Regions from separate parts of the Homo sapiens genome. Here region 2 is linked to region 1. The links come from fine-mapping of genetic effects on plasma protein levels. A gene starts in region 1. The other region holds a variant in brackets. All regions are shown on one strand. Distances are from middle to middle.

Region 1 (5,385 bases):
TCCATTCAAGAGAGACATTCTGCACTCTGTTGCTTTTCCTTTCTCATCATACATATTCACTGATAGCCATACACAAATAGTAAAATTAAAGAGCAAAATAAGTAATATGCTTATAACATGGGTAGCATTTTACACAGAATTATAAACTGCCATATAACGAACGTTTTCAACACCAATCAAGAAAAATCTTCAGATTACCTGAGATTGAATGTGAATATTAACTAACATGAATCAAGAGTGCAAGGTAAAAAATAAATGCCATATATTTCCAATGATATTCTCTCATATAAAAACATGGTCTTTTTTCAAATGATATTGAAACCCAATCTCTTTTACTGACACAGTAAAAAGGATCCAAATCTTGGAAACAGGTGAAAAAAATCAGTACTTTAATACCACAAACTCATTCATTCCTAATCAGATTCTATCCTTTACCGTGTCTCAGAGCAGAAGACCTATAAAGAGCTGAGATTCAAAGTATATCTTAATTTCAACTGTTTAGATATTTATCTTCTATCCATTTGCTTGCTTATTAACTGTTTCCCAATAAAACTCTTTCAAACAGATCTTTTAATAAAGGCTCGGAAAGAATTTCATTGGTAGTATTATAATTATTACATAGGGGAAATAACCCAGCGACAGCAATTATTCAGTTTTACAAAATGAATTAGTAGTAGGGTCTGAGAAAGAATCTAAGACTGATTCAAGACAATCCACTTAATCACAAATAACAAGGGCAAACACAGTCTTTTCCATGTGTCACCCTAATACCCACTTTTTTTTTTACCCCCAAAATCATTTTCACAGGGCCATATCAGCTATGTGAATTAATAGATTCTCCAGTGCTGTAGCAAAGATAAAACCTGATCCTTATAGTGGTTAAGTTTAGCAGCTACTGTTGCTTTTTCTTTCTTCTAAGCTCTTTGCTGTTTTTGATACTTAGCTGATTTGCTTAGGGGTAATTAAAAAGCAGCTGTTTTTCTATGATCTATCTGTCTATATATTTCTATGGTATGTGAGAGTGTGGGAGGGAAGAGTATACACACTGAAAAGTCACTTAGGCTTATCGGTAGTAGCACTCAGTAGGACTGAACTTTAATCTGGGAAGAGAATTCATTTGAGCCATTTCTTTTCAAAAAGAAATTTGGGATGCATTACAAAAATAAAATTTAAAATCCCGAGAACTCAGGAAAGCATAGAAATAGGAGAAAACAAGACAATTACTCCATTTTATTGACCCTGGTTATTAAAAAAAAACATAAAGTATTGAGACAGACTCTGAAATATGCAACTGTCACAATGAAAGCATTTCAGAGCAAAATTTGCTGCAATATGCTACTATGATTAAAAGCCATGTAATCTGGGAACCTCTGTAACAAAATGAAAATGAACTAGGAAAATAGCTTCTTACTACTTCTCTAAAAATAAAAGGCTGTAATTTTGTCATAATTACACAAAGGTAGGTGAGACTTTCATCTTTACCCAGCATTACAACTTATTTCCATCCATAGGTATTACAATTAACGTTGCTTTGAATGCACATATAGTTTAATACCGAGAATAAACTATTATTTTATGACACTACATGTGTTTTAAACTGAACCCACTATCATAACACATATTAAGGGTAGTCCTTCAGCACATACTCTCTACCCAGAGAAAAGATTCCCACACAGCTTTCCATGTACTCGTTTTTAAAATGTACACATATTATCGGACACAAATGAGAAACTAACGAGCAGCAGTGAGGTACACCATATGTTTCCATTGTAGGCTGAATCCAGGTCTTTGTTCCAATATTCCAGAGCCACTGGGAAGAAAGCTAACTATCCATTCATTAAAATTCATTTTTACATTATTGCTGGCAAAAGTTATACTTTTGATAGATTAAGTCAGAGCCCATCCTATCCTGACTATTCCTGCCTGCACTTGCTTCTTTAATACGGATTTCTTGCAATTCTAGGAAACTGCAAAATAACCACCCTGGATAACAGGTCGGTAGCAGGACAATCTGATAAACCAACGTAAAGGGTAGACACTGAAGAAGAATGCAAAGTTATTTTCCTAGTGAAATAGTTCAGAAGTTATTCTATATCAATAGCAAAATTTTTGCTTTTTATAGGCTACGCACCTATAACATCCACCAGATAACATCCACCTCGTCCTCAATTAGCAGGATTTTTCTCAATCTTCAGATCTCCCAGAACAGTTTTACTGGTGCAACTCAAACCAAAAACACTAACCACGCCCTTTATACCCAGAGTCAAGCTTCCTTTTGCTTTTTTGCCCTTAAAGTCGAAAAATGTAAATCTTTCACCCGAGAGGTTTTGCACCGGTTTCCTAACCCAACGCGGACTCTTTTAGCTGTGTCTTGATGTAATTCCTATTGGAAGACGTTTTCTCCAGGGCAGTGCAGACGCCCCGAAGAAGGACCCACGCTTACCTCCCACACACCTGCAACCCCTGACGGGATGCTGGAGCTTGTGCTCGGCGGACTGTGCTCCGCTCCGCTCTCGTTCCTGCTTTCGTCTCTCCCGGGAAACTACAGTCCAGACTGCGCCTCTGGCTTCTACAGGGACCCAAGCTCCGCCTCTCCCTCCTCTAGTTGGCGAATTTGGCAGCTGTTGCTCCTCCCCCTGCTGTTTCTGCAGCTGCCCGGACCGGAGGCAGCGGAAAGCAGCTGCCCTGGTACCTTTCCGCTCCCTGCACTTCTGCAGCTGCTCTGCCACTTCCACTCCCGTGGGGGTCCCTCTCCCCTCCTCTGTGGCTCACACCTGGAGCGGCCTCCTGCCCCACCCAGGCGTCTCTGCTGGGAGCCCCGGCTCAGCCTATCCTTCCCCGACCTGTGTGTCCGGATGCCCGGTGTGCCTGGGGCTTAGCTGCTCTCAGGGAAGCTGCCCCTCTGCCCAGTGCAAGTCCCCACACCAAGCCCTCCCTTCACCTGGGCGATTTCCCCGAGGCTTCCTCTCCACCCACACGGCATACTCAGCCCGACAGCCCCAGGATCCCCACCACAGGCCCCTCACCCCCTTCCTTCCTCTGCTCTGTCAGCCCGCCCCCTCAATGGGTGAGGCGCCTGCGGGGCCTACTCCGCACCCTGATTGGCGCAGGTGAGGGCTTGCCCCGCCCTTCCTCTCCTTTCCGTGCACCATCTCTCTTCATCTCACCTCCTCCCGCAAAGGCAGGGAATTCTCCTACTATTGGCTAGAAGTGTCACCACCCATCGCCTCAGGATCCCCCGCATGGCCTGCCGGGAAGTGTAGTCTTCCGATTGCAGGAATTGCGGACAACGCCGGCGAGCGGGACTACGAGTCCCCATAAGCCTCTGCACGACTCCGGCTGGGCAGGATTCCGGACAACGCCTGGTTCCTCTTGGGTCCTTCCGGCGTCGCCGGAGTGAATTGATCCGGGAGTTGAAGAGGGCTGCAAGGTGGGAAGTGAAGTCAGTGCCTCAGTTGCTGGTAAGGTGTAGCTGTTCTGTCCCAGTCCCCGTAGCTCTGCACCGAGCAGAAGAGGTCTAGGGTCACGCAGGGGCCATGGCTGAGGCACTTGGGCTTGGTTCTGGCAGGCGGAGCGGACGGGGCTGAGAGCGGGGCCCTACGGGCGTAAGCGAGGTTACCCTACGCGAGTGGCGTAAAGCGGGTTTGTAAATGCCGCCTGCCGGCTTGGGCCCGAACGCCTCCAGGAAGTCTCCTCTAGGTGGGGGCGGGAGGGGAAGGGCGAGGTTGGCCCCTGGTGCCCCGGGAGAGGGGACAGGGCGGATGTGCCTGGGGTGGGGTCCTTTGAAGGTGTGGCTTCGGACCGAGAGGTGAGGCTGCTGTTTTCCCCCTGCTTTGTAAGTAAGAGAAAAGGGAGGAGGAAGGAAAGGGTGCTTGGGAGTCGGCTCTTGGGGGTGACTCGGGTTATGCCCTTTGAGGGAAGAGGAGCACTGGAAGAAGGAAGAGACAAATGTTGGGGTCTACGGATTCAGTTCCAGTTTAATGATGTGGCCCTCTAAGGAGATAATTTTGCCTTAAACAGAAAGACTTGACCCTCTTAGGTGTCATACCTAAGGTATGTTTTTACTCCTTTACTGCTTTCAGAGCGCTTTCATTTTGGGATGCTGATGAGGAAACCGAGGGATTATATGACGTGCCCAAGGTCACACACGTAGGGACAGACTTTCTGAATCTAGTTCGGTTCGAGTCCAGCTTTAGAGTAGGGACGTTGGTTGTGCTTTTTGAAAAGGGTGGAGGAAGTTACAAAGTAAATGTATTTTATATAGTATATCTAAGAAGCCATTGTGAGATAAAAAGTTGTTTCTTGAACCGGAGTGAAATTCCTCAATAAAGGAAAGATCCTTTTGGAAAAAATAAAAATGGCCAGTTTCAACTTTTACAGATTTTTCCCCTTTTTTTAGGGGTGTATTAAATGATAGACTCTACTCTCACAGTTCATTTTTACGGGTAGGTAATAGGATGGGAGAACAACAGTTAAACAATATATCCCATCCTTAGAAGAATATTCTTTTCTTTTTCTACCTTAGGACTGTTTTTACTCTCATTTTGTAAAACTGATAATAGTGGGATTGGAATTCTTTCACAAAACTACACTTTTTTCAAATAATGTAGCGTTAGGAGAGTTTAGTGTGCCCATTACTAGAAAAGAAGGTATTTTGCATTTCTTGGAGGTAACATCGTCTTTTTTGAGACTTTACTTTTCCCCCATTTTCTTGACTCTGGGCTGTATTTGTGTGTGTGTCTGCAAATAATAAAATTGGGCTCTTGCATATTTTTATTTTTCTTAGCATCAACTGTGACTTTCAATTCATTCTTACTTTACATTGAAGAATGAAAAAACAGTACACGTATAGTTCATATCTTGCAGAAAGTAGTGCCTTTATGCAAGTCTTATCCTCTATAATGATTATGACCAGTTATAGCTCATGACTATTATTATTGGATAAGTTTTTAATAGAATTGTTAGAGTATGTTCATTGATGGCAGAATTTATTTGTGATAACTTTATATCCATACAGGTTAGCATGTAATAAATCATGGCTTACTCTTAACATGTAATAAATCATAGCTTACTGTTTTATATATAAGTTGATCATCAGACTATGCTGAATTTTGAATGTACTCTGCAGTTACTATATTATCAACAATGTGCTTCACTTTTTAATGGAAAAACATTTTTTCGGAACAGAGGTATTATCTTCCCTGATGGTTGAAATTAAGATGGTCTGGAAATTAATACGATTTTTAAAATAGAAAAAGTATGATACTATAGAATGAAGTAAAATCAGGAATAATGTACCATAAGTAATGTAGTACACAGACAAGGAAGACCCAGTTAAACAAATGGAAAATTATGTGGTGATAACTGACTTTGTGCTGGATTAAG
Region 2 (5,385 bases), 60 kb before region 1:
TTATCAAAAAGAATTCTTCATAAAATGCAAGAAAAAATACAAAATTAATTGTGAAAGGTCATTAGATGAGGGCCAACATAGACTAAATGTTTTATAACTTTAGGCCTGATTTACATAGTAATTTAAATTTAATCATTCATGTTCAAAAGTAAATTGTTCTTTGGAATTAAGGTACATTGTTTATATATTTAGTATATAAATGTCAATTATCATACATAAAAAAAAAACGCTTGGTAGGTATTCATTAACTACCTCTCCTTAAGAATAGACTTATAATGGAATATTTCTACATATATGTATTGTCACAGAAAGTTATGCATGCTAAATATCTTAGCCAAAAGGATTTGGGTTATGATTGCCTTGACTTTTGTATATAGACAAGAAAATATGTGGCTATATATAGCCATATGCAGAAAATTGAAACTGGATCCCTTCCTTACACCTTATACAAAAGTTAACTCAAGATGGATTAAAGACTTAAATGTAAAACCAAAAACTATAAAAACCCTAGAAGAAAACCTAGGCAATACCATTCAGGACACAGACACAGGCAAAGATTACATGAGAAAAACATCAAAAGCGATTGCAACAAAAGCAAAACTTAACAAATGGGATTTAATTAAATTAAAGAGCTTCTGCGCAGCAATGAAACTATCATCAGAGTGAACAGAAAACCTACAGAAAGGGAGGAAATTCTTCCAATCTATCCATCTGACAAAGGTCTAATATCCAGAATCTATAAGAAAATTTACAAGGAGTAAACAATCACATTAAAAAGTAGGCAAATGGCATGAACAACATGACTCAAAAGAAGACATGTATGCAGCCAACAAACATGAAAAACAGCTCAACATCACTGAACATTAGAGAAATTCAAATCAAAACCACAGTGAGATACCATCTCATGCCAGTCAGAATGGCAATTATTAAAAAGTCAAGAAACAACACATGCTGGCAAGGCTGTGGAGAAAAAGGAACTTTTTTACACTGTTGGTGGAAATGTAAATTAGTTCAACCATTGTGGAAGACAGTGACTCCTCAAAGATCTAGAACCAGAAATACCATTTGACCCAGCAATCCCATTACCGGGTATATACCCAAAGGATTACAAATCATTCTATTATAAAGATACATGCACACATATGTTCATTGCAGCACTATTCACAATAGCAAAGACATGGAATCAACCCAAAATGCCATGCCCATCAAGGACAGACCAGATAAAAAAAAAATGTTGTACATATACACCATGGAATACTATGCAGCCATAAAAAGGAATGAGATCATGCCCTTTGCAGGGACATGGATGGAGCTGGGAGCTATTATCTTCAGCAAACTGACACAGGAACAGAAAACCAAACAGTGCATGTTCTCACTTATAAGTGGGAGCTGAACAATTAGAACACATGGACACAGGGAGGGGAACAACACACATTGGGGCCTGTCAGGGGGTTGCGGGGAGGGAGAGTATCAGGATAAATAGCTAACGCATGCAAGGCTTAATACCTAGGTGATGAGTTGATAGGTGCAGCAAACTACCATGGCACACGTTTACCTATGTAACAAACCTGCACATTCTGCACATATATACCAGACCTTAAAATAAAATAAAATATAAAAAATAGAAAATATATGGCTATATATTTATAGTTATATATTATGAATATATAACATGACATGCTATATAATAAATTATGACATAACATAATATTCCATATTATGAATATATTATAAAACAATTTTCCAGGCAAAAACTCCATAGTTCCAAATAGATCTCCTTCACTTACATAACAAACTATCAGCTAAGTTTTTAGAAACATTGATATTTACATAAAATGTAATCCTTAAATGATAATTCCTAAAATTAGAATAAATATGAATGGGTTAATCAGTTATTAATAATTCATCTTTAATACTAATAACTCATTTATCACCTTAATGCTCACAGTAATTAATCATACTTGAACAATTTTCTTAATATGGAATGTGTTTTAACTGTACTTTCACGTACATACATACGTATATATTTAATCTGTTTTTATTGATATGTCTTGTTTTCTAGACTAAAATTTACATAGTATGCTAATAAACATGTTCTACGTGTTTACTGGCCTAGTTTTCCTACTAGGTTTTAAGGTATTCAAGGATAGAATAAACATTTTCAGTTCAGTTTCATTTTGTAAACACTTACTGTGTTCTTTCTACAGGAAGGAAAACTGGCTCTACCCTAGAACTTACAGAAAGAAAACTAGCCCTACAAAAAGATAATGTTATTATGGGATGGTAACAAGTAATAACAGAAAGGTGTATAAGTGAAGCAAAAATGAGGGTAACTTGCTCCAGGTAGTTCCATGGGAGGCTTCAGAGAAGAACTGGTTCTAGAGGTGTACCCTGAAGGCTAAGCAACACTATCTTGGGAAAGAAATATGAGGAGGGCAGTTTAGGCCAATGCAAGAACATAAGTGGAGATTCAGAGACATGAAAAGAGCATGATGTACGTGGCATAATCACAAGTACATGGACAGAACATGCTACAACATGCTTGATGTGGTGAGTGGCCAGAAATGGGGTTGAGAAGGGGATGGCATTCAGGACATCAAAGGCATTGTGTGCATCTTATTCTTTTAGCCACAGGGAGAATTTTGAGCAGAGTTGCATCTTCCTGCTAATTTATGGTTGCATCTCAGCACCTAGCACAGTGACTTGCTTGCAGTTCTTCTAGCAATGTCAGAGATTGTTTCCTCTCCAGTCATAATCAATCTTAAGTGTTAATAAAATACAGAAGACTGTCAATGCAAATGATATTCAGACAAAACAGATAGATAAATTTTCTAAAACAAAGACAAGAACACTGAATTATATCTGAAACTAGGTCTCGATGAATAGCACCGAATGAACCAATAAGTGAGCATGTGTCTACGGGAAGGACCACATGAGTATGAAAGAAATGACTATGAAAGAATACTAAAAAGAAGAAAATCAAAGAAGAAGGAGAAGGAGAAAGAGAAGGAGAAGAACAAGAATAAGAAGAGAGTGGCACAAGAATTATAATTCGAAAGCAGTTCGAAGAGTTTTTCTGGGTCAGATTTTCATTGATAGCCCATCGTCCATGCTGTGGGACGGGTGACACAGGAACCTCATACCTGGGCAGGTATACTTCTACTTTTTGCTTCTTCACAGAGTTTG[C/T]CCATTCTTCAACCAGCTGTGCTTTGACTAATGGCTCCAGAGTAGCAAGAGGAACTTCCTGTCTGGACAGCACCAGCATCATGCTTATTTCATCTCCTTCATATGGTATTTCTAGGACTTGGTAGATACCACCAGCTTCATTGGAGCCATCACTAAATTCCCCTAAAAAGAAAATAAAGGCCATAAAAGATGCCTATCAAAGCTTAAAAAAAGCTGGGGGCGAGAGATGAAAGACTACATATTTGGTATAGTGTACACTGCTCAGGTACTTGTGCAACAAAATCTCACAAATCACCACTAAAGAAGTTTTTCATGTAACCAAAAACACTTGTTCCCCAAAAGTATTGAAATAAAATCTAAAAAAAAATAAATAAAAAGGTTTAAATTTGTTATATATGTTTCTTCCCAAATAGTATATAGAATATAAAGAAATTCAAGCATCTGATAAAAAGCAGGTTTATTTGAAAATAGGCCCTAAAATTCAAATAAGTTCACAGCCCTGTATAATTTATTTTATTTTAGAATCCACAGAATTATTTCACATTTATAATAACATGTATTCAAGACTTGATTTTTATTTTTAAATGAGATAATTCAATATATCTGAAGTGTAGCATTAGAAACAATGAAAAGCCCTGGTTAGAAAAATAAAGCCTTGGCTCCAAGTTGACTGCAAAGCACATTGATCAATATTCACCTGATTTTTAAGAAGGGAAAATTTGACCATTTAATACCTGGCACTTTATTATCACAAAAACTACAAGTTTTAAAGCAAAGTTTGCAGAGTCAAAATGAAATCTAAGCATTGTATAATATTTAGCTATTATATTTGTGAATATTGATATCTCCAAATTAGGTAATTAGGTAAATGAGGCAATTGGCTTTGTGCTCTATGAACTTAGCCAAATTAACACACACACACACACACACACACACACACACATACATATGGCCAAAATGAACTATATATATATACACACAGTATATATAGTTTTATCTACATATAAAACCTGTATGTATATAATTTTAGAGACAGGGTCTTGCTCTGCCACCTAAGCTGGAGTGCGGTGGTGTGATCATAGCTCACTGCAGCCTCAAACTCTTGGGCTCAAGTGATCTTCCTCCTTCAGCCTCCCAAGTAGCTAGGACTATAGGTATGTACCATTATGCCTAGCTAATTAAAAATATATATATATATATATATATTTGTAGAGAAAGGGTCTTGCTGTGTTGCCCAAGCTAGTCCGAACTCCTGGCTTCAAGGAATCCTCCTACCTCTGTCTCTCAAAGTACTGGGATTACAGGCATGAGCCACAGCAGCTGGCCTGTACTGTGCTTTTAATAGAATAAAACTACTAGTACTAACATATACCTGGCTAAAAATTACCTTTCTGATTATGACTTAACAAATTATTACAAGTCAATATAGTGGATAAGAAGGACTAATACCCTAAACTTCTGAAGAGTCCAATAAAACACCTTTGAAAATAATGCCAAAGATATTGAATTATATTAAAAATTATAGGCTCTCAATAAATTAAAGCATAAACAAACAATTATGTTTGGCCATACATACACATGTCTAAAATCAAATTTTTTTAAAAGTCTTTGTATAAGAAGAATGTTTGTAATTTAAAAAGTGGTGCAGAGCCTAAATCAAGTGCTTCGTGGAACATATGGTTCACTAAAACCCATCCTAAACCCAATGAGTTTTTGGAGTAAATCAGAACATTCTCACACAATGTCAGGTATTTTCAGATGAATAAAGCTACTCTGCAGGTGTGGTTGACTTATAAATTTGAAAATACTCTGGAAACCATCAATGAATATAATATTTACTCAGAAACTAATTAGAGGGTTTTTAAAATGGAGCCAAAAAATTGAATTGTAGCCCAAATTAGATTGACAAGGAGTTTGAATATGAATGCTTCATGTTTTTCTTAGAAATCTGTTGATATTCTGCAAGAAGAGAGAAATAAAAGCAAAAAATGTCTTACCATAATAAAATTCTCCTTGCTGATACATCATTGGAATTTGGACTTCACTTTCATCATCTTTAGTGAAAGAAAAGGTTCTAGTATTTTCAGGCCTAAACTGCGACTTCCAGTTCCCCTTGAAATAGACAGCATTAATGAGGGCCAGATAAGTGGCAGCATCAAAATCCCTTGGGGATACCAAATCTTTCACCAGATCTATTTA

Direction of the effects. Positions count from the first base shown, and alleles are read on the strand shown. Strength reflects both the effect of a copy and how common the allele is.
As copies of T replace C in region 2, the plasma level of the protein whose gene starts at base 2,546 in region 1 goes down (moderate association).

What was found. PIP is the posterior inclusion probability: the model's chance that the variant is causal. Protein levels are from antibody-based Olink assays in UK Biobank. Linkage for the fine-mapping came from a reference panel and not from the study's own genotypes, which makes the PIPs less certain.
Region 2: its variant is fine-mapped to the plasma level of the SERPINI1 protein (UK Biobank, PIP above 0.99). The variant lies in the coding sequence of SERPINI1. If it changes the protein, the assay may bind it differently, which can mimic a change of level.

Annotation. Positions count from the first base shown.
Region 1 is chr3:167,732,882-167,738,266 of GRCh38, reverse strand. SERPINI1 (serpin family I member 1) reads right to left here and starts at 2,546. Exons shown (of 9, transcript NM_001122752.2): 1 at 2,444-2,546. PDCD10 (programmed cell death 10) reads left to right here and starts at 3,375. Exons shown (of 9, transcript NM_007217.4): 1 at 3,375-3,605; 2 at 3,917-4,053. RefSeq lists an enhancer at 3,124-3,563 and a silencer at 3,614-3,743.
Region 2 is chr3:167,792,583-167,797,967 of GRCh38, reverse strand. SERPINI1 (serpin family I member 1) reads right to left here. Exons shown (of 9, transcript NM_001122752.2): 4 at 5,184-5,378; 5 at 3,144-3,348. Among named protein-coding and RNA genes, the nearest start is that of SERPINI1, 60 kb to the right of the region's middle. The variant C/T (reference allele first, on the strand shown) is at 3,187.